Regions from separate parts of the Homo sapiens genome. Here all the other regions are reported to be linked to region 3. Evidence: microRNA targets listed by miRTarBase, many of them from high-throughput screens and not tested one by one. Region 3 holds a microRNA gene; each other region holds the end of a gene's coding sequence.

What was found. Region 3 holds the annotated microRNA hsa-miR-4783-3p (CCCCGGUGUUGGGGCGCGUCUGC, at 3,704-3,726, opposite strand). A microRNA usually pairs through its seed, bases 2 to 8, with sites in the 3' UTR of a target mRNA and lowers its output. Matches are read on the target gene's strand: a 7mer-m8 pairs with bases 2 to 8, a 7mer-A1 pairs with bases 2 to 7 and ends in A, and an 8mer does both.
Region 1: miRTarBase lists HOXA10 as a target of hsa-miR-4783-3p. Seed matches in the 3' UTR shown: 7mer-m8 at 3,959-3,965.
Region 2: the mRNA of RRS1 is a reported target of hsa-miR-4783-3p. Seed matches in the 3' UTR shown: 7mer-A1 at 730-736.

Annotation. Positions count from the first base shown.
Region 1 is chr7:27,164,302-27,175,414 of GRCh38, reverse strand. HOXA10 (homeobox A10) reads left to right here and starts at 1,095. Exons shown (of 2, transcript NM_018951.4): 1 at 1,095-2,066; 2 at 3,242-4,810. The coding sequence starts at 1,109. The coding sequence ends at 3,516. It overlaps HOXA10-HOXA9 (HOXA10-HOXA9 readthrough), which reads left to right. Exons shown (of 3, transcript NM_001433944.1): 2 at 10,448-10,537. It overlaps HOXA10-AS (HOXA10 antisense RNA), which reads right to left and starts at 6,516. Exons shown (of 3, transcript NR_046609.1): 1 at 6,422-6,516; 2 at 5,651-6,108; 3 at 3,500-4,107. MIR196B (microRNA 196b) reads left to right here and starts at 5,852; the gene lies at 5,852-5,935. It also overlaps HOXA9. RefSeq lists enhancers at 395-1,040, 3,396-3,895, 5,650-6,240, 6,241-6,831, 8,021-8,739 and 3 more.
Region 2 is chr8:66,429,753-66,434,752 of GRCh38, forward strand. It overlaps RRS1 (regulator of ribosome synthesis 1), which reads left to right. Exons shown (of 1, transcript NM_015169.4): 1 at 1-981. The coding sequence ends at 477. ADHFE1 (alcohol dehydrogenase iron containing 1) reads left to right here and starts at 2,752. Exons shown (of 14, transcript NM_144650.3): 1 at 2,752-2,823. The coding sequence starts at 2,765. It overlaps LOC102724687 (a long non-coding RNA gene), which reads right to left and starts at 2,614. Exons shown (of 5, transcript XR_929013.3): 1 at 2,532-2,614. RefSeq lists an enhancer at 780-829 and a silencer at 2,586-3,005.
Region 3 is chr2:127,419,843-127,425,694 of GRCh38, forward strand. It overlaps MIR4783 (microRNA 4783), which reads right to left and starts at 3,776; the gene lies at 3,695-3,776. PROC (protein C, inactivator of coagulation factors Va and VIIIa) reads left to right here. Exons shown (of 9, transcript NM_000312.4): 2 at 80-170; 3 at 1,441-1,607; 4 at 3,075-3,099; 5 at 3,192-3,329; 6 at 3,432-3,566. The coding sequence starts at 101. It overlaps LOC105373608 (a long non-coding RNA gene), which reads right to left. Exons shown (of 2, transcript XR_007087228.1): 2 at 4,858-5,852. RefSeq lists enhancers at 2,644-3,442, 3,443-4,239.

The DNA.
Region 1 (11,113 bases), not on the chromosome of region 3:
AGGGAGGGGAAGAGGGGAGGGGACAGAGAGGTAGGAGTGTAGTGACACTGGTTCTTGTTGTAGCCTCCAGGAGCATATGAGTGCCAAAGCTAACAGGAGAGCAGGAACATAAAGCAGCGGAGGTGTACACCGGGCACACCCCTCCAAGTCTCTCACTTTGGGCCAGCCAAGGACCCCAAGGCCAGCATTTTACTTCCCCGAAATGACTGTGGGCTTAGAGTCTTCCCTAGGTGATGAGGGGATGCTTGGATCTGGCTCTGGCCTTGGGAGTGGGAGTGGGGCCGTCTTTCCATCAAGGCTGGCAGCCGCTTCCCACCCCCAGTCCCGCCAGCCCACCAAAGTCCACTGACAGGAGTTGTAGAGAAGGCAAGCCGGGTGAGCACAACACCAGAGGAGAAGATCCTAACTGGATCAACGGACTAGGGGAGAAAAGTGTTGGGGGTTAGGGGCTAGGGAACAACCACTGCATTTTGGGGAAAAATCTGTGGATACTGGAAGTAGAGGCAAGTCAGCTTCTAGTTCACTCTGGGCTCCTGACACTCTGAGGATCCTGACGGCCATAGGGCCAGGTTCGCCACTTTTGAGGAGGCAGAATTCAGACAAGGGGCCAGTTCCAGATCCAGAGCTGAATGGGAAGCGCGTGAGTCCCCGACACGGCCGCTTCAGTGGTTAGAGTACACCGGGGACTAGTGGCAGCTTCTGCGACAGGGATGGTGAGCACCCAAGGCAGACTGGGCGCGCACCATAAACACCCCACTTGTTAACTGCGCGGGGCCCAAGGGCCCTTCTAAGGGACCCCGGTATGGGGCTCACGTCCGGGTAGGGGCGGGGCGAGCCCAATGGCCAGGCCCCCCACCAGCCACGTTGGGGCAGCCCCCACAGCTCCCGGCCTTCGGGCCAAGGTGTCGGGGTGCGTCTCCTGGCCCATCAATACAGATTACATATTTATATCAATCGCGGGCTCTGAGGGCGCCCTCGGAGAGCGGCCCCGCGCCTACGAAACCAAACTGGGAGTGGTCGCGCGGAAACTCTGGCTCGGGATTGGCTGCGGGCGCCCGCCGCGGTGCGGGGGGATTGCTAATCGTATTCAGCATGTTTTGCACAAGAAATGTCAGCCAGAAAGGGCTATCTGCTCCCTTCGCCAAATTATCCCACAACAATGTCATGCTCGGAGAGCCCCGCCGCGAACTCTTTTTTGGTCGACTCGCTCATCAGCTCGGGCAGAGGCGAGGCAGGCGGCGGTGGTGGTGGCGCGGGGGGCGGCGGCGGTGGCGGTTACTACGCCCACGGCGGGGTCTACCTGCCGCCCGCCGCCGACCTGCCCTACGGGCTGCAGAGCTGCGGGCTCTTCCCCACGCTGGGCGGCAAGCGCAATGAGGCAGCGTCGCCGGGCAGCGGTGGCGGTGGCGGGGGTCTAGGTCCCGGGGCGCACGGCTACGGGCCCTCGCCCATAGACCTGTGGCTAGACGCGCCCCGGTCTTGCCGGATGGAGCCGCCTGACGGGCCGCCGCCGCCGCCCCAGCAGCAGCCGCCGCCCCCGCCGCAACCACCCCAGCCAGCGCCGCAGGCCACCTCGTGCTCTTTCGCGCAGAACATCAAAGAAGAGAGCTCCTACTGCCTCTACGACTCGGCGGACAAATGCCCCAAAGTCTCGGCCACCGCCGCCGAACTGGCTCCCTTCCCGCGGGGCCCGCCGCCCGACGGCTGCGCCCTGGGCACCTCCAGCGGGGTGCCAGTGCCTGGCTACTTCCGCCTTTCTCAGGCCTACGGCACCGCCAAGGGCTATGGCAGCGGCGGCGGCGGCGCGCAGCAACTCGGGGCTGGCCCGTTCCCCGCGCAGCCCCCGGGGCGCGGTTTCGATCTCCCGCCCGCGCTAGCCTCCGGCTCGGCCGATGCGGCCCGGAAGGAGCGAGCCCTCGATTCGCCGCCGCCCCCCACGCTGGCTTGCGGCAGCGGCGGGGGCTCGCAGGGCGACGAGGAGGCGCACGCGTCGTCCTCGGCCGCGGAGGAGCTCTCCCCGGCCCCTTCCGAGAGCAGCAAAGCCTCGCCGGAGAAGGATTCCCTGGGTAAGCAGGGCTGCAGAGGGCTGCAGTCAGGCGGGCAGACAGGCAGACACAAGGAGGAGAAGGATCAGAAAACTAGGAGCCCGCGCAGCAGCCGGCCGGCCTTGGCCCAAGCTGCAGGCAGGCTGACCTTGTGAACTTGCTTTTTAATATTTGGGCGTGGGGACGCAGTAAAATTCATGTCCGGCTTAGCGCCCCACAGCAAGACGTCCTCGGCGCTGGCCTCAGCTCCCCCTGACTAGGGACGAGGACACCAGCGAGCAGGCCCCCTCCTGTGCGCTCTTTCCTGTGGCCGGGAGGACCCAGAGCCCTGGTCCCTGCCCAGCCTGCGCGGCGCGGCCCACGCGGGGGGAGGGGGAGGGAGGGAAAGTAGCTCGCCCGCAGATAGCGCGGATGTTTGTAAGGCATCCAAAATAAGCAGCCGCCAGCGCCAATAAATAAGCCCATTAACCGGCGAAGTTCGAGTTTACGATCCCCCATGCTTTTTTCAAAGTTGCTGAGGGGCGGGAATCTTCGTTGCGGGAAGAAGAAAAGGCAAATCCGGCCTGGAAGCGGGGGGCCCTGAGCTGAGAGCCAGAGAAGGGCCATTTCCCTTCCCCTGGACCTCGGAATCGCCCAGCTATCTATCCCTGGCTCCTGGAGAAACTTGAGGGAGGGCCCTTGACCCCCGAATCGGTTTTTCCTGCCTTCCCCATTGGACCAATGATGCCCTTCTTTCTCCCCTTATCGAGTCTTGGGCAATCAGGGCCCTGGGGTGAGACAGCCAAGCTGCCTGGCCCATCTTCCAAGTAAGCACCCCGCGCTCCTAGCCTGGGGGCTACAGGAAATGCTTGTCTGCCATATGGCAAGAGGCAAAGAAAAGCGTTAAGTTCAAGATGTACAGCCTGCCCTCCCAGGCCTTTCCTTCTGCAAGCATCTACGGCTTAGCGCTAAAACAGGTGTTTGGAAAAGTGGGGGAAATGTAAATTGGAAGGGTCATGTAGATTGAAGGCCCACTCAATTTTTGTCATGACTTTTGGAGGAACTGCTTGCTCTCAGCAAGCCAAAAACGGGGGCACGACTCTCTTCTCTGTGACTTGGGACATCTCTCTTATGGGAGAAACGGAGGCAATTCACCCCCGCGGGCAGCCCGTGTGGCCTCGACTTAATCATCCCCTCTTTATTCTCTTACATGCCAGGCAATTCCAAAGGTGAAAACGCAGCCAACTGGCTCACGGCAAAGAGTGGTCGGAAGAAGCGCTGCCCCTACACGAAGCACCAGACACTGGAGCTGGAGAAGGAGTTTCTGTTCAATATGTACCTTACTCGAGAGCGGCGCCTAGAGATTAGCCGCAGCGTCCACCTCACGGACAGACAAGTGAAAATCTGGTTTCAGAACCGCAGGATGAAACTGAAGAAAATGAATCGAGAAAACCGGATCCGGGAGCTCACAGCCAACTTTAATTTTTCCTGATGAATCTCCAGGCGACGCGGTTTTTTCACTTCCCGAGCGCTGGTCCCCTCCCTCTGTCTTCAGGCTCTGCCCAGGAACTCGCACCTGTGCTGGAGCCCTGTTCCTCCCTCCCACACTCGCCATCTCCTGGGCCGTTACATCTGTGCAGGGCTGGTTTGTTCTGACTTTTTGTTTCTTTGTGTTTGCTTGGTGCTGGTTTATTTGTTGTTTTCTGGGGGAAAAAGCCATATCATGCTAAAATTCTATAGAGATAGATATTGTCCTAAGTGTCAAGTCCTGACTGGGCTGGGTTTGCTGTCTTGGGGTCCCACTGCTCGAAATGGCCCCTGTCTTCGGCCGAGCTGGTTTCCTGCCCAGCCTGGGGCAAACCTAGCCGGAAGGCCGAGGTCCCATTGTTGGCGCTGAGGTGTCTGGCCTGAGGTCAATGGTGCAAAGGAGCCGCCACCGGGCATGTCTGCCTGGAGTGCTGTGCTGTGTTTAATCAGGGGATACAGGCCCCTGGGTTTCTTTTTTCTTTCTTCCTTTCTTCCTTGGCCAAGAGAAGGGCTTACAGGCATGGACATGCAGGTTGGCAAACGGGCTTGACTTTGGCTGATTTAAAAAGTGAGAAAGAAAGTAAAAAAGGTTAATTTTTCCTTCCTCTGTAAGATATCCCAGCTTTAAAAAGAAAAAAAAAGAATTACCAAGAGAAGGGGACTTCTCTTCCAGTTTCTGTAAGGTCTTACATTGCCTGACTAAAATGTTTCATTTACCTCTAAATTTCCATATCCTTCTGGCTGTAGATAAATAATGTAGTTTTGTTTATGCATTTGGAATTAGTGGATTTTTTTGTCATTAAAATTGTTACCACTGGTAACATGTGACAAGCACACCACAATTCTCCCTATCTTGTGAAGTTGTTTTTTTAAATCGCCTTGAACAAAAAGTTTTTTTTTTGTTTGTTTTTGCTTTCTGAAATTCACAGAAGCCTAGGAGGACTGGGGTAAGCGGAATAAACTAGAGAAGGGAGACATTGTTTGGATTTCCTTTATACTGTGAAGTTACATGCATAAAAGGGTCAAACCTGTAGATGCAGAAAAAGAAAAAAACTATAAATACAAATCTGTATAAATGTCTATTATTATGAAGAATTGCCAATCTTGTTTTAAGCAAATGCATTCTATCGTTATTATAAATGTTAGTTCTAGCTCTATTTACTTCTAATCTTAAATCAGAATAAATTAATATTGTATTGCTGCTGTGCGTGGAAAAAGACGATGTTTATGTTCTTATAGAATAAAAGCTGTGGAATGAAGCTTTTTAATTTTACCTCTTTTTTGACTTCTTATCTTCACCTTCCACTTTATCCCGTTCACCACTTTTACAACAGGAGGACTAACCCGAGCCCCTGCAATTACTTTAGGCATCTATTTAAATATTACCTAGACGGTCGTAATTTGTCTGGGCCCTATAGCCCTGGTGCCGTAAGGTTTGTCGGCTTTTGTTCAGTTTTATGGCTTGCTAGTATATCTGGATTGTGGCTGTCTTGGACCAGTGATTTCAGTTGAGAGGGGAGCTACATAGACAGAGGAAGCCAAACAGGATTTCTTTCGGGAGCCCCAGGGAGGCTTGCAGAGGCCGGTTATTTTGCGGGTGTCTGGGTCACAGATGACCCTCAATCTGAATCGGGGAGCAGGCCTGGCCCACAGCGCATCTCTAGCCGCTGGAGGCAGCGGTTAGGTGGACCCGGGCTGGACTGCATGGGGGCCTCCCCCTCCCCCAGTACGGCCTCCCCCACCTGGCGGCACTCCTTAGGGCCACGCGTTTCCTGCTTGCCAGAGTGGGGGGGGCGGGGGCTAAGGGGAGGGGGCGCAGGAGCGCGCGCCCCGGCGGGCGGGCAGCTAGGAGGGAGAGGGGGAGAGCGAGAGGCGGGAGGCCGGGGCCAGACAGGGAGCCGGGATCTGTACCGTCCCTGGCGCTTTCGAGCCTTCCACGGCTACCGCCTCTTGGCGCCGGCTCGCTGGGCTGCAAGATTTGGGAAAGCGGCGCGCACACTGCTTCTCGGAGCTGCTCTCGTCTCGCCTGCTCCCCGCCTTTATTCCTCTCTCCCTGCCTTTCCTCCCTCTCTTTTCCTCCCTCTCCCTCCCAGGAATACCTTACTGGGGCCTGTGGCTTCCCCTTCCTTGACGCATTTGCGGCCGCCTGGGGCACTCTGTTGCACTGGCGGGCGCAGGTTGCCTAGGGGCTGGGCTGGGCCGGGCCAGGCGCGATGGCAGGGTTCTCTCCTTGGCGGCGGCGGCAGCGGCGGAGGCGGCGGCGGCGGCGGGCGAGGCAGCCCTTCGCGGGCAGCACCAGAACTGGTCGGTGATTTAGGTAGTTTCCTGTTGTTGGGATCCACCTTTCTCTCGACAGCACGACACTGCCTTCATTACTTCAGTTGAAATCGTCTCCAGGTACCTCTGCGCGCGGGGGTCGGGCCGGGCGGGGCATCACGGCCCTGGTCGTGCCAGGCCTGCGGTGGCAACCTCGGCTTTCCCTGCTCAGGAGCCTCGTGTCTTTCTCCGCAGCGCTTTGCCAGCCGGCCGGCTTTCCCCTTCCACCACACACCTCCACCTGGTCACAGCAGGTAGGGTTAGGTTGGCTGCTCCTTCGCGGACGCCGGGGGCGTGGTAGGAATTCTGGGCTTTGGGCCATTCAAGGTCAGGGGCGCCCGCTTCCATCCTGAGCCTCCCACTGGAGGCCTGCGCCTGCCCAGGGACCTCCTGCCATTCTCTTGTAAGGCTGGAACACACACACACACACACACACACACACACACACACACACCAGTCCCGGGTGTGAGCTCAGGAAAGAACCTCCTTCCAGTGGAGACTCAGGCTGGACTAGGAAGGATAGGGCAGGCTGGGATCCTGGCCTTGTCACTTACCCTTCTCTCTGTAAGCTCGGCCGCTGCTAGGAGTCGCCTCTCTTTTCTTCCTTCTTTTCCCTGTCTTCCCTTCCTCTTTTATCTCTTCTTTCTTTTTTTCTTCTTTCCTTTGCTCCTTCCTGCTTTCTTTTCTTCCGTTGGTCTTTTTTTCATCTTCCGTCTCTGCCAGATTCTATCTCACCTCCTTATCTCCTTCCCAAAGCATCCTTGGGGAGGGGCCCAGAGCTGGCTTCAGGAGAGCCTAGGGGGTCTCACTTTCCTCTGCGGCTCAAGTAGAGGTTGGGAAGTCTGCCGAGGAAGGGCCCGCGTGGGGCGGCTGCCGAGGGCGGTGGGTTTGGGCCTGGTGTGTTACTCTGCAGACAAGGCCTCGGTTATGATCACGACCGGATGGCGGCAGCCTTGCGTTTCTTCGCCTGTCGCTAACGGCTGACTAGGAGATCTGATTAGGGGACATTCGCTGCAGCTTTGTGTGCCCATATCGAGGGCAGGGAGGCCTTCGCCAGCCTCACTGGGGACTGGAGCTGAGGCCCAACCAGCCTCGCTGGAGCCTGGCCATTCGCTGGGAAGCTCTTAGCTGGCTCTTCCCGGCCTGCCGGTCACAGCTTGGGGTTTGACCGCATTGAGGGAGACTGGCTAGGGCAAAGCTTGACTGCTTGCTTACTAGTGGCTTCCATTAGGTACAAAATATGTTCCATACAGCACCTTTGTGCAGCTGGGTGCTGGAGAAGGGGACCCTTCCAAGAGCCAGTATGTTTTAAATGGGCAAAAAGAATCCCAAATTCCAGAGCCATTGATATAAACTTGAGTCATCGTTCCAAATTGTAGTCTACAGATGGGAGCCAGTCTGACCATTTTCCCTACAGAAAACAGAAAACAAACTATCTCTCCCTACTCCCAACACACACAGTTACAGATTCGTGCCCACAAAGCTGTTTCCTTTCCCTGCCTGGACTGGAGGCCCAGGAACTCTTTCGTTGCACAGCCACCGACCTGCTGTCTGAAAGGACCACACACCCCATTCCCTTCAACTCCTCCCTGCCATTTTCTGGACCAGGGCATTGGATTTATTTCAGAGATCACAGTTTCAGAAATCTCAGTCGAGAAGGGGCCGCTTTAAATTATACTCATTTATTATTTCTTTATGCATACGCAATCTCTTTCACTTCGAAAATAAAAGCAGACAAAAAAGTCAGACTATTCTGGCTCCAAACCTTTGGGCTGAAGGAAGACAATATTTGGTTTTCTGATTTTTCTCCGCTTTCTAGGCACCAGTAACATCTGCTTAACACTCAACGCCTGCTAATTGTTCAGTAACTCTCTTATTTTGGGGCTAAGGCTGTTTAAAGGAACAGCTTTTTTACTTAAAAAATACTGAAATAATCAGTGTCTTCTCAGGCATAAAACGTGGAAAAGGCATCCAGACATGCCCAGCCCATTTGCAGACACTTAAAATTGGGAGCCAGGGTTTCCTCCAGGGTTAATTTTTTAAATGAAAATCTCAGAGGCCTGGCGGACTGCGGGGTATTTAGGACACGGTGGACTGTGGTGGGGGTGGGCATGACCTAGAGGAATTTATGGGGCAAGGAAAATATTAGGGGGAGGGAGATGAGGCGGACAGGACGGGGCCATTTCGGAGTTCATTGTGTCGGCCACTTCCCTCTTCCAGGCGCGGGTGCAGGAAGGGGCACCCAGTCGGTATCCGCGCGGCTTGGCAGCCTCGCTGGTATTTGGGAGTCCCAGCCGGAAGTGTGTCAGGGTGTTTGAGGGGGGGATTACTGGAACTGCTGGTGAGGATGAAGGCAAAAGAGAGAGAGAGAGATGGAAGCGCCCGAGGCCGCCAGCCTCGCCGCCAGGGAAGTGGGCTAATGAAAAACACACTGTTGCAGGCACAGTATCCACACGTGAATTTGATTACCCCTGTTCTAGGAGTCGCTGCTTTCTGTTAGGAATTGGGGGCAGGGGGAGTTTCCTTCCAATTAACGGAGTGGCGGCGACCTTTTAATTTACCCCCAACGGGTGAGAAATAAACTTCCCCAACGTGGCCAGGCCCAGGAATGGGACTGGAGTCGATGCCCTTTTACCCCTCCCCGTTCTAATTTCCAGCCCTGGCCTTGAGCTGTGGCTGCCTCTCTTTGGGCCTTGTACCTCTCCGCCGAGTCTCCGGGCCCCGTAGGTAACCAAGGCGAGGCCCGGAGTAGCAGCTGGAAAGGGAGGAAGGAGCCCTGAAAGGCTCACGCGGCCCCGGGACAGGCCACATCGGTGCGGGCCTCCCAGGTTCCGGAGCTGCGGGGTCTCTTAGGCGAGGCTGCCTTTTCCCAAACCGAACTTGCCTTCCATTCATGCCACTTGTAGTTTTTTCCCCAGCTGGGATTCACGGAGCGCAACCAGGCTTGCAGCGCTCATGGTTAGAGCCTCTGAGGCTGGAGCACAGGGCTGGGTCGCCAGCCGCCTGCGCCTGGGAATCCTGATTGCCAGCTGATGAGAAAGGCGGGCTGGGCGCGCGTGTGCGTGGGGTCGAGGGCCGGGGACCGAGCGCGCCGCACAACCAACCAGGCCCTCAAAACCTTCGCCCTGGTGGCGGCTGGCCGCTCCCTCCTGGCCAGCTCCTCCGTGGGGTCCTCGTAGCAAAGGCGAATTTAAGGGTTGCCCGGGCGCCCCTCGCTCCAGGCGGGTAGCTGTGGGGACCTACACCCGCGGTACTCCCTGAGCGGCCGGTCCCTGCCTGGAGTGCCCTGGTAGGGCCGGCGGCGGCTCCGTTTGGGACGGATCCTGCGTTGAATTTGACTTTTCGAGGGCGGCCGCGGGTAAACTCGCCTCTCCCGGGGACCGCAGGGATTATTTACAGGGAGCTCGCCAACCAAACACAACAGTCTAACCTTTCCAAGTCCTCGTAAATTTTTACAGCTGGGAGCCACGGCGAGGCAAACGAATCTGTTGGTCGTTTCCGACTTCCCGCCAGCCTGTGTGGCTTCTGAAACAATAACTCCTTATGAAATATCATAAATATAGATTTAAATACAGTAGAGCGACAATGCGATTTGGCTGCTTTTTTATGGCTTCAATTATTGTCTAATTTTATGTGAGGGGCTCCGCTGGCCGCACTCGCACGCGGGACCCGCGCCTTCTTGATGGCGTGATTAATTGTGATATAAAATAGTCCGCTTAAGAAGTGTGTGTATGGGGGGGGAGACGGGAGAGTACAGAGACAAGGCTAGATTTGATCTTTTAATCGTCGTTGGCCACAATTAAAACAAACCCCATCGTAGAGCGGCACGATCCCTTTACATAAAAACATATGGCTTTTGCTATAAAAATTATGACTGCAAAACATCGGACCATTAATAGCGTGCGGAGTGATTTACGCGTTATTGTTCTGCTGGACGGGCACGTGACGCGCACGGCCAATGGGGGCGCGGGCGCCGGCAACTTATTAGGTGACTGTACTTCCCCCCCGGTGCCACCAAGTTGTTACATGAAATCTGCAGTTTCATAATTTCCGTGGGTCGGGCCGGGCGGGCCAGGCGCTGGGCACGGTGATGGCCACCACTGGGGCCCTGGGCAACTACTACGTGGACTCGTTCCTGCTGGGCGCCGACGCCGCGGATGAGCTGAGCGTTGGCCGCTATGCGCCGGGGACCCTGGGCCAGCCTCCCCGGCAGGCGGCGACGCTGGCCGAGCACCCCGACTTCAGCCCGTGCAGCTTCCAGTCCAAGGCGACGGTGTTTGGCGCCTCGTGGAACCCAGTGCACGCGGCGGGCGCCAACGCTGTACCCGCTGCGGTGTACCACCACCATCACCACCACCCCTACGTGCACCCCCAGGCGCCCGTGGCGGCGGCGGCGCCGGACGGCAGGTACATGCGCTCCTGGCTGGAGCCCACGCCCGGTGCGCTCTCCTTCGCGGGCTTGCCCTCCAGCCGGCCTTATGGCATTAAACCTGAACCGCTGTCGGCCAGAAGGGGTGACTGTCCCACGCTTGACACTCACACTTTGTCCCTGACTGACTATGCTTGTGGTTCTCCTCCAGTTGATAGAGAAAAACAACCCAGCGAAGGCGCCTTCTCTGAAAACAATGCTGAGAATGAGAGCGGCGGAGACAAGCCCCCCATCGATCCCAGTAAGTGTCTCCTCCCTTCAAATCCGCCGCCGCCTCCACGCCGGCCTCCCGGATCTGCTGGCCCGCCAGGTTTCTCTCGAGCCTGCCTTCGTCCTCGCTGGAAGCCTCTCGAGTTGGGGCCAGGAGCCAGAAGTTGGTGTTTGGGACGCCTCAGATAGGGCCCCAAGTCTGGAGAGCAGTGAAGAGCGGCCCGCAGGGCTACGGGAGAGGAGGCGGCTGCTGCAGCGAGAGGGGGCGGGGCGGGCACTTCGGGACGAGCCAAGACTGGCCGCCCCTCTCCTTGGCTGCCCAGGCCCAGGACCGAGATACTTTGGGCCGTTCTTCGAAAGCAGTGCAGCCCAGAGAGCCTTTTGTACAACTAGATTGTCCGTGAGCGGCGGCAGCCAGGGCAGCCGGAGCTGGGACGCTGGGGGAGACGGCCGATTCCTTCCACTTCTTGCCTTCGGCCAGTGGCGGCGTAAATCCTGCCAAGATGAGGCTGCGGGCGACCCGGGCCACAAGGGTCCCCATGACAGATTATTCAAATAAGCCACAGACGTGATCAGCGGCCTTAGGGCGCCCTGACGGCTTGCCCAG
Region 2 (5,000 bases), not on the chromosome of region 3:
CACCCTACCGGACACCAGAGTAAGGAGGAGCTGGGCCGCGCCATGCAAGTGGCCAAGGTCTCCACCGCCTCTGTGGGGCGCTTTCAGGAGCGCCTCCCCAAGGAGAAGGTGCCCCGGGGCTCCGGCAAGAAAAGGAAGTTTCAACCCCTTTTCGGGGACTTTGCAGCCGAGAAAAAGAACCAGTTGGAGCTGCTTCGTGTCATGAACAGCAAGAAGCCTCAGCTGGATGTGACTAGGGCCACCAATAAGCAGATGAGGGAGGAGGACCAGGAGGAGGCCGCCAAGAGGAGGAAAATGAGCCAGAAGGGCAAGAGAAAGGGAGGCCGGCAGGGGCCTGGGGGCAAGAGGAAAGGGGGCCCGCCCAGCCAGGGAGGGAAGAGGAAAGGGGGCTTGGGAGGCAAGATGAATTCTGGGCCGCCTGGCTTGGGTGGCAAGAGAAAAGGAGGACAGCGCCCAGGAGGAAAGAGGAGGAAGTAATAGTTTCTAACTGTCGGACCCGTCTGTAAACCAAGGACTATGAATACTAAATGTTAAGTTCTAGGCAATTATACGGGGACTCAGAAGGACCTGGCCGCTGCCTTCATTGAGTTTAAAGGGACAGGATTGCCCTTCCGTCAAGAAAGTATGTAAGTGTTGGACTGCACAAATTAATGTTTTTCCCACAACCGAGACTTTGGAGATTAAGAACTTATTTGAGGATTTAAGAATTAGGGAAATAATTTGGTGGAAACCGGGAATGAGTTCTATTCTTAAACAGCCTTTTTTTTTCTTTTTAATGTTGGATATACGGCGAGGTAGAGTTGGCCATATTTCAGAGACTTAGATTGACGTATATGTTTCTGCATTATTTTTACAACAAGTTTGTGTATCAGAGCGGGAGTGCGGGGGAGGGAAAGAAAACAAACAGTTTCAGAATTGAATAGGCAAGTGACTGTTTTAAAGATTAAGTAATAAAGATGTCTTATCTAGTGTGACTTTTAACTTTCTGACTACTGGGTAGAAATTGTACTTGAAGCCGGTTACCTGGATACCTGGTACAGATTATTTTTGTTTACTTTCTGAAAAACACAAAGCAGGCCGTGCGCAGTGGCTCACTCCTGTAGAGTCCCAGTACTTTGGGAGGCCGGGGCGGGCGGATCACCTGAGGTCAGGAGTTCGCGACCAGCCTGGCCAACACAGTGAAACCCCATCTCTACTAAAAATAAAAAAATTAGCCAGACACGGTGGCTGGTACCTGTAGTCCCAGCTACTTGGGAGGCTGAGGCAGGAGTATCGTTTGAACCTGGGAGGCGGAGGTTGCAGTGAGCCCAGATCACGCCACTGCACTCCACTCCAGCCTGGGCAACAGAGGAAGGGGCCATCTCAAAAAAAAAAAGCAGTTCAATTATAATGGTTTCAGTGATACCACTTCTAAACTTATACTTCTTTTGGTATCAAATATAATATTCAAAGTAGTAAAACTGATGTCTGTTTTTTAAAAAGATTTTATGCCTTTCAACACTGAACACATGGATTTCCTGTAAATGATCAATTTGGGCTTCATTGACTAATGGTAATAATCCTCATTAATCCAGAAAACACTTAAATCTTTCTCTACGTTTATATCCCCAGTTGTTTGTGTGTGTGTGTTTGTTTTTAAGCTTGACGTCAGGTATAGTTTTGTTTGGGGGAAGAAAGAAACAGACCCATAAGATCCTTAATTAGGACATTATTATCTTTTTTTAAGTTCCGGAGTAGATGTGCAGGATGTGCATGTTTGTTACATAGGTAAACGTGTGCTGTGGTGGCTTGCTGCACCTATCAACCCATCACCTAAGTATTAAGTCCCTCTGCCCCCTTCTATCCCCTGCCCCCAGGCCCCAATGTGTGTTGTTCCCCTCCCTGTGTACATGTGTTCTCATAGAACATTATTTTTTGATTCATTTGTCAAGTTGGCCTGAGCTGGTTTGATTAGGAGGTGAAATGTTTATATAGCTGTCCTTGGTCTTCCTGTCCATCAATCTTTTCCAGTTTGATCGCAGTAAATTCATTTCTGTAAAACTTAATATCTCCCATAAAGGATTCAGATTTCATAATAACAGATTACTAAAAATGCAAATGTTTAGTTGTTACTGTCTTTGGATACTTTCTGATAAAGTTGAGCTTTATCGTTAATCAGCTTTTCCACTGGGACATGGCAGATATGGCACAGCCAAGCCCTCCCGGAGCATAGTCTAATCATGGCAAGTTTTAACTATTGATGTAAGAGTTTTAACTATTGATTTTGCTTTCATCAAAAGCAAAGCCATTCACACAGTATTTAACAAAAACCCTCGGGCTCTGCTAGGTTCTTGTTTACTGTTAAAACAGTTTAAAGGCAGGGTCTTGATCACTTAAAATACTCTTAGAAGGGAAAGTAACATTTTAAAGGATTAACAGTGGAAAAAGAATATCCCTGTTCCTCTTCCTTCCCCCAAGTCCTCAACATGTGAAAAATAGAGTTGATAAGTAAGGAGATTTAAGGCAGAACCCGAGGCCTACGGAGCAGTTACCTTCTACGGCAATTTCAAGGGTGGATGGTGCGAGCGCCGCTGGGGCAGCTGGCGTTCTGGTTCTTACTCCGTGGGAAAATGGCCCTGAGCCCGACTGGCTTGAGGCTTAGACAGGTGACCCCGCGAAGCGGGTGGGCAGGCGCGGCCGAGGGGCGGGAGGCGGGCAGCCTCCGTGATTGGCCGGCGGAGGGGGCGGTGTAGCGACCCGAGGAGGGAAGAGGACTCCAAGCGCCATGGCCGCTGCCGCCCGAGCCCGGGTCGCGTACTTGCTGAGGCAACTGCAACGCGCAGCGTGAGTGCGGGGCCGGCGGGCGGGCAGGGGACCGCAGGGTGCCCACGCAGCCCCCTGGGTGTGACCCGCTCAGATCCTGCGCAGTCTTCTCCGCTTACTTTCAAGAATTCGGAGAATTTGGATACCGCCCTGGGCTCCCACCGCGCGCCAGGCGGAACAGCGAGGTCACAGAGTGCGCGATGCAGCCTCTCAGGGCGCAGTGAGGCAGCCTTTACTCTGCTTGTCTACCGTTAAAGAAACTGAGGCCCAGAGAGGACCTGGTCCCACATCGTAGCAGGCAGTGGAGAGCTTGGCACGGTGGCCAAGACAAATTCATGTATGCAATTGACACATATTTATTGGGCATATATTATGTGCCAAAAACTATTCTAGGTTCTGGGGATACAAAGATGAAAGGCTCTGGAGCAGTTTGAGGTCTAGTGGGGAATGGGATGAGGGGACGAGGCTAAAACCGGCTATAGCAGACTGGGTGTAGAAGGGAAGGATGGATGTGAGAAGTCGCAGAGTCACACTTCCTGGCATGTACAGGGAGTCAGGGTATTCAATGTCATGACACGCCTGCCTCCCAGCAGAAATGTGAGGTACATCCTGGTCACCTGATAAATACTTGCTGACTGTGCAAGTGCACAAGTCTGCCTGGGAAACATGGAAAAGTTTGAGCTCACAGGTGCAGATCAGTAGGAGGAAAGGCGAGGGACTGGCGAGGAACGTCAGGCAGAGAGAAGAGCAACACCAGCGATGGAGATGCAGTCCCAGGACACAAAAGACAAGTAGACCTACCTTTATAAGAGGAGGTAAAGATGGAGAAGACGGCTGATAAAAGACCATGAATAAGAATATAGCTAATACGATGAGCCCGGCAGTGTCTTACACACTTTGAATGGACTATCAGTATAATAGTAACTCTAATCCTTTCACTGACCCTATGACACACGGTATTGTCATCCTCATAGATACGGAAATAAAGGCATGGAGAAGAATTTGTCCAGTGTCACACAGCTAAGCAAATGGCACAGTCATAATTTGAACCCAGATACTCTGGCTTCACAGTCCTTGTTCTTAGGCCTGTAGTAAGGAATTTGAATTGTGTGCTGTAGATAATGGAAAGCCATTGAATAATATTTGTCACCATTAAACACTGATACCTTAAAATGTCCCATGACAAAAGAATTACATGGCCAAATAAGTTTGAGAAGCTCCTTACTGCTGTATTGCCCTCTTGGAGAATCAAAATATACATTAGACATGCAGGGCTCCAAGAAGCTACAAAAAATACTAAAGCTGTGTTCAAATTTTTGGTTGTAAACCTGTGTCATCATAGAACTCTTTGTCACACAACACCATTTATATCCCATGGAATCAGTGTCACACACAGAATATGTTTTTGGAATGGTTGCATGAAAAGGGAGTATGGCATAATCAGAACTGTGTTAGCACATTCTGGTGGAAATGTGGAGTGAAGAGGAAGGACTAGAGGTCATTGTCCTGCTCCAGCCTGAAGATAATGGCTTCATGCACGGAGAGGCAGTTCCTTGGGTAGATAGAAATGCTGAGAGGTTGGTTAGAATCCACAGGATTTTGTATCTGAATAGTGAAGAGTTGAGATTTCTGGCTTGGGCATCAAGTAAACAGTGGGCTCATTTACCAAGGCAGGGATTGTAGGAGAGTTAGTGTTAGGAGGAAAATGGCAACTTCAGTCTAGGGCATTTTGAGTTGAGCATGCTTCTGGTACATTCAGATGGAGACCCCAGTAGGTGATTGAATGTATTGTTCTGGGGCTCAAGAGTGAGTTGGGAACACATCCATCCATGCGTATGGAGGACAGTTGAAGCCCTAACAAAACTCTAACCTAGAAGGAAACAGCTGAGGGTGAATTCCTGGGGAGCAGCACTGCCACAGCAGGAGTAGCAAGATGGTGCTTTCTTCTGCACATGCTTATTATTCTAATAGGGTAAACATTTTAAAAGTGGGAGATTTCCAATGAAAATCTTGGAAAATTGGAAAATGGCATCATTGGGCACATGTTTCATCTGGGCAAAGTGGGCTAGGGCACGGGGTGATGTGTGGCCATTTCTATTGGACAGAGCATGCACTCTGGGCTTCTGCCCAACACATTCCATAGAGCAACTGCGCTGACAACTGAATGGAGGGGAAAGAATCAGCACTGAAGGAGACAG
Region 3 (5,852 bases):
TCATTCCGCTTCCACCTGGGGGTGCAGGCAGAGCAGCAGCGGGGGTAGGCACTGCCCGGAGCTCAGAAGTCCTCCTCAGACAGGTGCCAGTGCCTCCAGAATGTGGCAGCTCACAAGCCTCCTGCTGTTCGTGGCCACCTGGGGAATTTCCGGCACACCAGCTCCTCTTGGTAAGGCCACCCCACCCCTACCCCGGGACCCTTGTGGCCTCTACAAGGCCCTGGTGGGCATCTGCCCAGGCCTTCACAGCTTCCACCATCTCTCTGAGCCCTGGGTGAGGTGAGGGGCAGATGGGAATGGCAGGAATCAACTGACAAGTCCCAGGTAGGCCAGCTGCCAGAGTGCCACACAGGGGCTGCCAGGGCAGGCATGCGTGATGGCAGGGAGCCCCGCGATGACCTCCTAAAGCTCCCTCCTCCACACGGGGATGGTCACAGAGTCCCCTGGGCCTTCCCTCTCCACCCACTCACTCCCTCAACTGTGAAGACCCCAGGCCCAGGCTACCGTCCACACTATCCAGCACAGCCTCCCCTACTCAAATGCACACTGGCCTCATGGCTGCCCTGCCCCAACCCCTTTCCTGGTCTCCACAGCCAACGGGAGGAGGCCATGATTCTTGGGGAGGTCCGCAGGACACATGGGCCCCTAAAGCCACACCAGGCTGTTGGTTTCATTTGTGCCTTTATAGAGCTGTTTATCTGCTTGGGACCTGCACCTCCACCCTTTCCCAAGGTGCCCTCAGCTCAGGCATACCCTCCTCTAGGATGCCTTTTCCCCCATCCCTTCTTGCTCACACCCCCAACTTGATCTCTCCCTCCTAACTGTGCCCTGCACCCAAGACAGACACTTCACAGAGCCCAGGAGACACCTGGGGACCCTTCCTGGGTGATAGGTCTGTCTATCCTCCAGGTGTCCCTGCCCAAGGGGAGAAGCATGGGGAATACTTGGTTGGGGGAGGAGAGGAAGACTGGGGGGATGTGTCAAGATGGGGCTGCACGTGGTGTACTGGCAGAAGAGTGAGAGGATTTAACTTGGCAGCCTTTACAGCAGCAGCCAGGGCTTGAGTACTTATCTCTGGGCCAGGGACTGTATTGGATGTTTTACATGACGGTCTCATCCCCATGTTTTTGGATGAGTAAATTGAACCTTAGAAAGGTAAAGACACTGGCTCAAGGTCACACAGAGATCGGGGTGGGGTTCACAGGGAGGCCTGTCCATCTCAGAGCAAGGCTTCGTCCTCCAACTGCCATCTGCTTCCTGGGGAGGAAAAGAGCAGAGGACCCCTGCGCCAAGCCATGACCTAGAATTAGAATGAGTCTTGAGGGGGCGGAGACAAGACCTTCCCAGGCTCTCCCAGCTCTGCTTCCTCAGACCCCCTCATGGCCCCAGCCCCTCTTAGGCCCCTCCACCAAGGTGAGCTCCCCCTCCCTCCAAAACCAGACTCAGTGTTCTCCAGCAGCGAGCGTGCCCACCAGGTGCTGCGGATCCGCAAACGTGCCAACTCCTTCCTGGAGGAGCTCCGTCACAGCAGCCTGGAGCGGGAGTGCATAGAGGAGATCTGTGACTTCGAGGAGGCCAAGGAAATTTTCCAAAATGTGGATGACACAGTAAGGCCACCATGGGTCCAGAGGATGAGGCTCAGGGGCGAGCTGGTAACCAGCAGGGGCCTCGAGGAGCAGGTGGGGACTCAATGCTGAGGCCCTCTTAGGAGTTGTGGGGGTGGCTGAGTGGAGCGATTAGGATGCTGGCCCTATGATGTCGGCCAGGCACATGTGACTGCAAGAAACAGAATTCAGGAAGAAGCTCCAGGAAAGAGTGTGGGGTGACCCTAGGTGGGGACTCCCACCAGCCACAGTGTAGGTGGTTCAGTCCACCCTCCAGCCACTGCTGAGCACCACTGCCTCCCCGTCCCACCTCACAAAGAGGGGACCTAAAGACCACCCTGCTTCCACCCATGCCTCTGCTGATCAGGGTGTGTGTGTGACCGAAACTCACTTCTGTCCACATAAAATCGCTCACTCTGTGCCTCACATCAAAGGGAGAAAATCTGATTGTTCAGGGGGTCGGAAGACAGGGTCTGTGTCCTATTTGTCTAAGGGTCAGAGTCCTTTGGAGCCCCCAGAGTCCTGTGGACGTGGCCCTAGGTAGTAGGGTGAGCTTGGTAACGGGGCTGGCTTCCTGAGACAAGGCTCAGACCCGCTCTGTCCCTGGGGATCGCTTCAGCCACTAGGACCTGAAAATTGTGCACGGCCTGGGCCCCCTTCCAAGGCATCCAGGGATGCTTTCCAGTGGAGGCTTTCAGGGCAGGAGACCCTCTGGCCTGCACCCTCTCTTGCCCTCAGCCTCCACCTCCTTGACTGGACCCCCATCTGGACCTCCATCCCCACCACCTCTTTCCCCAGTGGCCTCCCTGGCAGACGCCACAGTGACTTTCTGCAGGCACATATCTGATCACATCAAGTCCCCACCGTGCTCCCACCTCACCCATGGTCTCTCAGCCCCAGCAGGCCTTGGCTGGCCTCTCTGATGGAGCAGGCATCAGGCACAGGCCGTGGGTCTCAACGTGGGCTGGGTGGTCCTGGACCAGCAGCAGCCGCCGCAGCAGCAACCCTGGTACCTGGTTAGGAACGCAGACCCTCTGCCCCCATCCTCCCAACTCTGAAAAACACTGGCTTAGGGAAAGGCGCGATGCTCAGGGGTCCCCCAAAGCCCGCAGGCAGAGGGAGTGATGGGACTGGAAGGAGGCCGAGTGACTTGGTGAGGGATTCGGGTCCCTTGCATGCCAGAGGCTGCTGTGGGAGCAGACAGTCGCGAGAGCAGCACTGCAGCTGCATGGGGAGAGGGTGTTGCTCCAGGGACGTGGGATGGAGGCTGGGCGCGGGCGGGTGGCGCTGGAGGGCGGGGGAGGGGCAGGGAGCACCAGCTCCTAGCAGCCAACGACCATCGGGCGTCGATCCCTGTTTGTCTGGAAGCCCTCCCCTCCCCTGCCCGCTCACCCGCTGCCCTGCCCCACCCGGGCGCGCCCCCTCCGCACACCGGCTGCAGGAGCCTGACGCTGCCCGCTCTCTCCGCAGCTGGCCTTCTGGTCCAAGCACGTCGGTGAGTGCGTTCTAGATCCCCGGCTGGACTACCGGCGCCCGCGCCCCTCGGGATCTCTGGCCGCTGACCCCCTACCCCGCCTTGTGTCGCAGACGGTGACCAGTGCTTGGTCTTGCCCTTGGAGCACCCGTGCGCCAGCCTGTGCTGCGGGCACGGCACGTGCATCGACGGCATCGGCAGCTTCAGCTGCGACTGCCGCAGCGGCTGGGAGGGCCGCTTCTGCCAGCGCGGTGAGGGGGAGAGGTGGATGCTGGCGGGCGGCGGGGCGGGGCTGGGGCCGGGTTGGGGGCGCGGCACCAGCACCAGCTGCCCGCGCCCTCCCCTGCCCGCAGAGGTGAGCTTCCTCAATTGCTCGCTGGACAACGGCGGCTGCACGCATTACTGCCTAGAGGAGGTGGGCTGGCGGCGCTGTAGCTGTGCGCCTGGCTACAAGCTGGGGGACGACCTCCTGCAGTGTCACCCCGCAGGTGAGAAGCCCCCAATACATCGCCCAGGAATCACGCTGGGTGCAGGGTGGGCAGGCCCCCTGACGGGGCGCGGCGCGGGGGGCTCAGGAGGGTTTCTAGGGAGGGAGCGAGGAACAGAGTTGAGCCTTGGGGCAGCGGCAGACGCGCCCCAACACCGGGGCCACTGTTAGCGCAATCAGCCCGGGAGCTGGGCGCGCCCTCCGCTTTCCCTGCTTCCTTTCTTCCTGGCGTCCCCGCCTTCCTCCGGGCGCCCCCTGCGCACCTGGGGCCACCTCCTGGAGCGCAAGCCCAGTGGTGGCTCCGCTCCCCAGTCTGAGCGTATCTGGGGCGAGGCGTGCAGCGTCCTCCTCCATGTAGCCTGGCTGCGTTTTTCTCTGACGTTGTCCGGCGTGCATCGCATTTCCCTCTTTACCCCCTTGCTTCCTTGAGGAGAGAACAGAATCCCGATTCTGCCTTCTTCTATATTTTCCTTTTTATGCATTTTAATCAAATTTATATATGTATGAAACTTTAAAAATCAGAGTTTTACAACTTTTACATTTCAGCATGCTGTTCCTTGGCATGGGTCCTTTTTTCATTCATTTTCATTAAAAGGTGGACCCTTTTAATGTGGAAATTCCTATCTTCTGCCTCTAGGGACATTTATCACTTATTTCTTCTACAATCTCCCCTTTACTTCCTCTATTTTCTCTTTCTGGACCTCCCATTATTCAGACCTCTTTCCTCTAGTTTTATTGTCTCTTCTATTTCCCATCTCTTTGACTTTGTGTTTTCTTTCAGGGAACTTTCTTTTTTTTCTTTTTTTTTGAGATGGAGTTTCACTCTTGTTGTCCCAGGCTGGAGTGCAATGACGTGATCTCAGCTCACCACAACCTCCGCCTCCTGGATTCAAGCGATTCTCCTGCCGCAGCCTCCCGAGTAGCTGGGATTACAGGCATGCGCCACCACGCCCAGCTAATTTTGTGTTTTTAGTAGAGAAGGGGTTTCTCCGTGTTGGTCAAGCTGGTCTTGAACTCCTGACCTCAGGTGATCCACCTGCCTTGGCCTCCTAAAGTGCTGGGATTACAGGCGTGAGCCACCGCGCCCAGCCTCTTTCAGGGAACTTTCTACAACTTTATAATTCAATTCTTCTGCAGAAAAAAATTTTTGGCCAGGCTCAGTAGCTCAGACCAATAATTCCAGCACTTTGAGAGGCTGAGGTGGGAGGATTGCTTGAGCTTGGGAGTTTGAGACTAGCCTGGGCAACACAGTGAGACCCTGTCTCTATTTTTAAAAAAAGTAAAAAAAGATCTAAAAATTTAACTTTTTATTTTGAAATAATTAGATATTTCCAGGAAGCTGCAAAGAAATGCCTGGTGGGCCTGTTGGCCTGTGGGTTTCCTGCAAGGCCTTGGGAAGGCCCTGTCATTGGCAGAACCCCAGATCGTGAGGGCTTTCCTTTTAGGCTGCTTTCTAAGAGGACTCCTCCAAGCTCTTGGAGGATGGAAGACGCTCACCCATGGTGTTCGGCCCCTCAGAGCAGGGTGGGGCAGGGGAGCTGGTGCCTGTGCAGGCTGTGGACATTTGCATGACTCCCTGTGGTCAGCTAAGAGCACCACTCCTTCCTGAAGCGGGGCCTGAAGTCCCTAGTCAGAGCCTCTGGTTCACCTTCTGCAGGCAGGGAGAGGGGAGTCAAGTCAGTGAGGAGGGCTTTCGCAGTTTCTCTTACAAACTCTCAACATGCCCTCCCACCTGCACTGCCTTCCTGGAAGCCCCACAGCCTCCTATGGTTCCGTGGTCCAGTCCTTCAGCTTCTGGGCGCCCCCATCACGGGCTGAGATTTTTGCTTTCCAGTCTGCCAAGTCAGTTACTGTGTCCATCCATCTGCTGTCAGCTTCTGGAATTGTTGCTGTTGTGCCCTTTCCATTCTTTTGTTATGATGCAGCTCCCCTGCTGACGACGTCCCATTGCTCTTTTAAGTCTAGATATCTGGACTGGGCATTCAAGGCCCATTTTGAGCAGAGTCGGGCCGACCTTTCAGCCCTCAGTTCTCCATGGAGTATGCGCTCTCTTCTTGGCAGGGAGGCCTCACAAACATGCCATGCCTATTGTAGGAGCTCTCCAAGAATGCTCACCTCCTTCTCCCTGTAATTCCTTTCCTCTGTGAGGAGCTCAGCAGCATCCCATTATGAGACCTTACTAATCCCAGGGATCACCCCCAACAGCCCTGGGGTACAATGAGCTTTTAAGAAGTTTAACCACCTATGTAAGGAGACACAGGCAGTGGGCGATGCTGCCTGGCCTGAC